Linked DNA regions of Homo sapiens: region 1 is linked to region 2. The links come from fine-mapping of genetic effects on gene expression. A gene starts in region 2. The other region holds a variant in brackets. All regions are shown on one strand. Distances are between the middles of the regions.

What was found.
Region 1: its variant is fine-mapped to the expression of MED12L in neutrophils (BLUEPRINT, PIP 0.95).

The regions. Positions count from the first base shown.
Region 1 is chr3:150,988,797-150,991,706 of GRCh38, forward strand. All of the region lies in intron 1 of CLRN1-AS1 (CLRN1 antisense RNA 1), which reads left to right. Among named protein-coding and RNA genes, the nearest start is that of CLRN1, 18 kb to the left of the region's middle. The variant A/G (reference allele first, on the strand shown) is at 1,221.
Region 2 is chr3:151,083,940-151,086,849 of GRCh38, forward strand. It overlaps MED12L (mediator complex subunit 12L), which reads left to right and starts at 1,725. Exons shown (of 45, transcript NM_001393769.1): 1 at 1,725-1,997; 2 at 2,859-2,910. RefSeq lists silencers at 1,377-1,746, 2,183-2,477.

The DNA of each region.
Region 1 (2,910 bases), 95 kb before region 2:
CCATGTTGACCAGGCTGGTCTCGAACTCCTGGCCTCAAGTGATCTGCCTGCCTCGACCTCCCAAAGTGCTGGGATTACAGGCATGAGGCACTGTGCCCAGAGACCATCAGATCTTTTTCAGGGGCTGTTTTGTTTATTTATTTCTTCCTTTGAATGGACTATATTTTCCTGTTTCTTTGTGTATGCCTTATAATTTTTTTTATCAAAAACCAGACATTTAAATCTAATAATGCAGTAACTCTGGAAATCATATTCTTTCCCTTTCCCAGGTTATACTATTTTCATTTTTTTTTATTTTTTTAAAAATTGTTTTAGGTAGGTTGTTTCTGCGCCAAGGATAAGCCTGAGGTGTAAAATTAAGGTCTTCTCAGGTCTTTTCTGAGCCTGTCTTTCTCTGGGCATGAACATTTGTTCTAATTGCTAATGTATATGCAGTTGCTTTTGAATGTCCTAGTCTTCAATGTCTGCCTCCCAAAAGGGAAAAAAGAGAAAACTAAGGATGTGGAGAGTGGTGCCAGCCATTTACTCCTTTGGAAGTCACTTCAGCTGGACAGGGAGGGGCTTGCCACAGTGGGAGAGATGCAGCAACAATGGCCAACTATGTGTTTGTCTGCGCCTCTGTGATCAGAAGCTGCAATCAGTGATGGCTGGGCACAGTGGCTCATGCCTGTAATCTGAGTACTTTGGGAAGCTGAGATGGGAGGATCCGTTGGGGCCAGTAGTTCAAGACCAGCCTAGGCAACATAGTGAGACCTTGTCTCTAAAAGAATTTTAAAAATTAGCTGGGTGTGTTGGTACATGCTTGTAGTCCTAGCTACTTGGGAGGCTGAAGTGGGAGAATTTCCTGAGCCCAGAGGTTCCAGGCTGCAGTGAGTTATGATCGCACAACTGTGCTCCAGCCTGGGTGATGGAGCAAGACCTGGTTTAAAAAAAAAAAAAAAATCCACACACAGGTTATTCAAAACAAAACAAAACAAACAAAAAACAGAAGAAGAAGCTGCAATCAGTGAGCAGAGCACAAATGCACAAATCCCCAGCATTTGGAGGTCAGGGTCCCCTGGCTCCCACAAACTGTGTAAAAGCTGCTTCGGGAACAAGTACATACCTGCATACCATGGGGCTGGGGGTGAAGGAAGGATAGCTGCTACTGCAGTAAGAGCTGAAATTGACCACAGTTAACCACAATTTACTAAGCCTTCCCTAGACATTGCAAATTTTCA[A/G]CAGACTCCAGAGTTCCTCAATAGCTACATCCGACAGATTTTGCCAGTGAAATTGTTTCTAGGTGGGCAGACAAATTCCTGTTGCTTCCTACTTTGTCATCTTCCCAGAATGCCCTCCTTGCACAAAAGTTTTTGAAACCACTGAATCTTTTGTCACCTCCAAACAACACCCTAAATAAGCAGATCTTTAGTCTCCAATAATTCTAAAAGTCAGGAGTAGTCATATGTTTAAAATGAGTGATAATAATGTGCTGTGAGGATGAAATGGAATAATATAAATACCTTGAAATAGTGCTTAGCATATAATAAATGCTTAATAAATGTTAGCTATTCTTTATTATAATAATTTTTATTTAAATTATAATTACTTTCTGAACTGGGGAGATGCCTCACCAGAAACAGTTAAAATATCAAGGATGTTTTAAGAAAACTGCTGGACCAAGAATTAACACTTGCTACATATTGGTTCCTATTTTTATACCAAATTTTAAAACATTAAACATAAGACTTAAATTTTTGACAATTTCTTGCTCAATATCCTAGTATGCTTAGTTACCATTCTAATATATCTTTTCACACAGGTTCTCTCTGAAATACTTAACTTTAGAAAGATTTATAGTTCTTAAGTGGGGCTATTTTATTCCATTTTAGTCCTTGGTAGTAACTTCCAACCAATGAATTCCCTGTAGGAATACTCACAATTTAGTGTATGCAATATGATTAATTTTAGCTCCAGAAAAAAGGCAGACATTTTTTCTTTGAAAATTTGAGCGGCTTTAATGTATTGTGAGTATGCATGTAGGATCTCATTCAACTGCAGTTTCTTATCTCATCAAAGTTATCTCCTCACATCCTTATGACATTTGCCTTATCTTTAATTTGTAGGAGTAATATTTTCCAGGTCAGAGGAGAGAGTAAATTTTCCATAGCTAATTTTCCAACTAAAAGCTGATGTACATACAGACACAATTCTGTTGGCATTTCCAGGGCATTGAATACCAAAGAAAATATATTTTATGATTATCTTGGGGGCATGAATGTACCTATATTATAGAAGAATTGGTAATAAAGAAGATTTATCAATTTAATTACTGGTGTGTTACACTTGGGCACCATGTAGCATTTTTTTGGTCCTACAAATAACTGTACTGAACAGGGCTGAATCTATGATGTAGCCCACAATGAACTCTCAGAGGTGTGGTTCCTGGAAGAAGCCTCATTGCTGAAACTATCCTCTTGCCCAAGGCTTTGCCCAACATTGTGATACACATGGTCAAGTGCAAACATCTTCTTTAGGAATTTCAAAGATTTGGCCGGATGTCTTTGCAGTAGAATTACTCTTTGAGTTTGAGAAACTAATTGAGTTCAGTATAGGCATGGAAAGACACTTGGAGGAATATGCCAAAATATTAATAGTGGCTATGCCTTGGGGAATGGCGTTGAATGTGAAGGAGAAAAACCAGAAGGGAACTTTCGCTTATTATTTCATCTGCTTCTGTATTATTGAACTGTTTATAACCTAAATGTATTAATTGCAGAAAAAAGGCAGCAGCCTTTACCAGCCACCTGGTCTCCCAGCTCAGAAACCAGGGAAGTAGGCACACCATTTCTTTTTCCTTCACTCCTCATGCCTGATCAGTAATTGAACTCTGTGGGTTTTCTTCCTAAATATCTCTCAAATGCATCCCTG
Region 2 (2,910 bases):
GAGTAAAACTGTCCTTACTAGTGTATGTCAGTGAGTTGGGAATGGGGGAGAAAGATGAAACAAAAATAGTAACTTTAATTTTTATAGCTGAGAGATGAATATTTGAGGGCTCCTTATATGATTTCTTCAGCTTTTTGTATGTTTAATAATTTCCCTAATAAAGTTAGATAATAAAAAAAACCCTTTCGGCCGGGCGCGGTGGCTCACGCCTGTAATCCCAGCACTTTGGGAGGCCGAGGTGGGCGGATTGCGAGGTCAGGAGATCGAGACCATCCTAGCTAACACTGTGAAACCCCGTCTCTACTAAAAAAAAGAAATACAAAAAAAATTAGCCGGGCGTGGTGGCGGGCGCCTGTAGCCCCAGCTACGCGGGAGGCTGAGGCAGGAGAATGGCGTGAACCCAGGAGGCGGAGCTTGCAGTGAGCCGAGATCTCGCCACTGCACTCCAGCCTGGGCGACAGAGCGAGGCTCTGTCTCAAAAAACAACCAACCAACCAAACAAAGAAAACAACAACAACAAAAAACTGTCCTTTCTTTCAAACAAGGGAGCTACATTTGATAGATGCCTGTATCACAAGGGCAAGTCCAGCCATGAAATTAATCCCAGGATATTAGTGGAAGAGAAGACCCTGGGGCAAGATGGGGAAGGTGGTCAGGAAATGCCCTCCAGTGAAGTTAGGTAAATGCTCTCTAGAAGTAATTGTTCAGATTAAGGAAGCCAAAAGCTAAACACCTGACTCAGCCTCAAACTGGGTTTGGAGGTGCTCACAGGTCAGGATCAGGAGTGAGGAACTAGCCTCTACCACATTACCTTCACTTTATTTATCTCCTTCTTCCCCCTTTGCTTAAATGTCAACGAACATCAAAGTTGATGTTCAGATTCAACCAGCATTTCCAGAGCACCTACTATGTATCAAAGGCTTCCGGTTAGAATCTGCCTTTACCACCTTACAGAGAGGGAAGGCCGAGAATGCCTCAAGCCGTGGAGAACGTGAGTCCATCAGGCAAGGACAGGTTAGGAACCCAGTCCCTCCAAGTCCAAGTCAGGGAAAACAGGTCAGAAACTTAGAATCAGTCGTGGGTTCAAATTCCGACTCGTTTCGTGGCTTTCGGCAAGTGAGTGGTCCTCTCTGAGCTGGCTCAATTTCTCCATCCATAAAAAGGGTACAGTAAGACCGTGGAAGGTTGTAAGGACCAGAGATTCTGACTATCAAGATCCTGGCACGTAGCGAAGGCTCCATAAATGGCAGCCATCATTCTTGGCCAAGTGCGGGCGCATTCTCCCGGGCACGCCTCCCGCGGGGTCCCTCAGGACAGGCCGAGCCCGCCTCCGCGGCTCCGGTCTCGCAGAGCTCGCGCCAGGTGGCCCAGCATCTTGGTGCCCGCGCCCCGAAGCGAGGAGCGAGGGCGGGTTGGATGACCAAGGTCTGCCCTGGAGGATCACCCCCCCCGCCCCTTCCACGCTCCCGGCGCAGGTGAGGTTTTCGGCCCAGGCCACGGGGACCGCGACCTCTGGGGAGGTCGAGGCGGAGGGTGCAGCGGGGGGCTTGGAGCAGGGCTCCAGAGGGCGCTCCCTCCCTCGCCCAGGTTCACCCCAGGGCCAGCCTCGGCGCCGGGGCCCGCGGGCTGCGCGCTCTGCGGCTGCGAAAACCCGGAGAGGCGGATTGGAGCGCGCTCACCGCGCTCTCAGCCAACTCCTCCGCGGTCCGGCCGCCGAGCTGGGCATGCTCAGTGCGGACGCCGCGCCGCCGTCCGCCAACTCGGAAGCTCGCGCTCCCGGGCCGTGGGGGCGAGAACGCCGGCGGCGAGCCGGCGTCGCTCGCCGCCCCCAGACAGTGGCAAACTTCGCGGCGTTCCCGGAGCTCGTCCGGGCGAGGCAGATACCGCACAAATAAAATCAAATCCAAGTCCCCCATCCCAACCCGAATGATGGAGGCTGCGGCGGCCGGAGTGACCCCGCCGCCGCCAGCCCCAGCCCGCTAGCCGCGGACCAACAGGTAAAGTGTTGGGGGTTGGGGGCGGAAGGGAAGAGGAGCTGGGGCCGTGGGGAGGCGGCGGGCTGGAGGAGCCCGAGACGCCTGCGGGCTGGCTGCCCCCGTCGGCGCTCACAGCCATCGCTCCTCACCCCCTTCCCCAGCCCCTGGAGGGACTGTAAAGGGTTAAGTCGGCCCCACGCCACCGTGAGCACGGCCCCCTCCAGCCGCCGCGACCGCCAGCAGCGCGCCTCGGCGCCTGCCCGGAGCCGCCGAGGGGACCGTAGCTGCGGATGCGCCACTGGAACCTGGCGGGCGTCTAGGAGGCACCGGCCGCTTCCCACCGGCCGCATCCCTGCGTCTCGCGCCCCCTCCAGACCTGCCTCTGCCTGCACTGGCCCGGTCCGTGTCCAGGTGGCGGGGTCTGCGGGGCGCGTGGCGGCGGGGGAAGGGTCCCTGCCGGGGAAGAGAGGCGGGGGCGGTCCGCTCCACAGCTTCTTCCCGGGAGGGGAGGGCCACCCTCGCCTTGGGCGAGCACTTCAGCCACCAGCCTAGGCGCCAAGAAAAGTTTTTTTTTTTTTTTTTCCAGTGCCCCACCCCCACCCCCATCCTGCGCCCAGCTGGGGTGGGTTTGGGTCCATTGGTGAAAAAAGTCACACGTTCCCATCAGCTGCTCCTCCCCCTGGAGACAAGGTAGGGGGGAGCAGAGGAGGCAGGCGCCGCGGAGGACCCTGGCCGACCTCTAGTCCCTCCGCCGCCGCCACCGGAGCGGTGCGTCCCGGGGCTCGAGCGCAGCCGAGTACCCGCCGAAGGCTGTCCCCATCAGTGCGTGTCTGCTGCCGGGCAGCGGCAGCATCCAACCTGCTTTATTCCTCCTGCCTGCAGCGCCACAGCGAGCGAGCGAGCGAGGAGGGGGAGAGAGGGAGTCTGTCTGCAA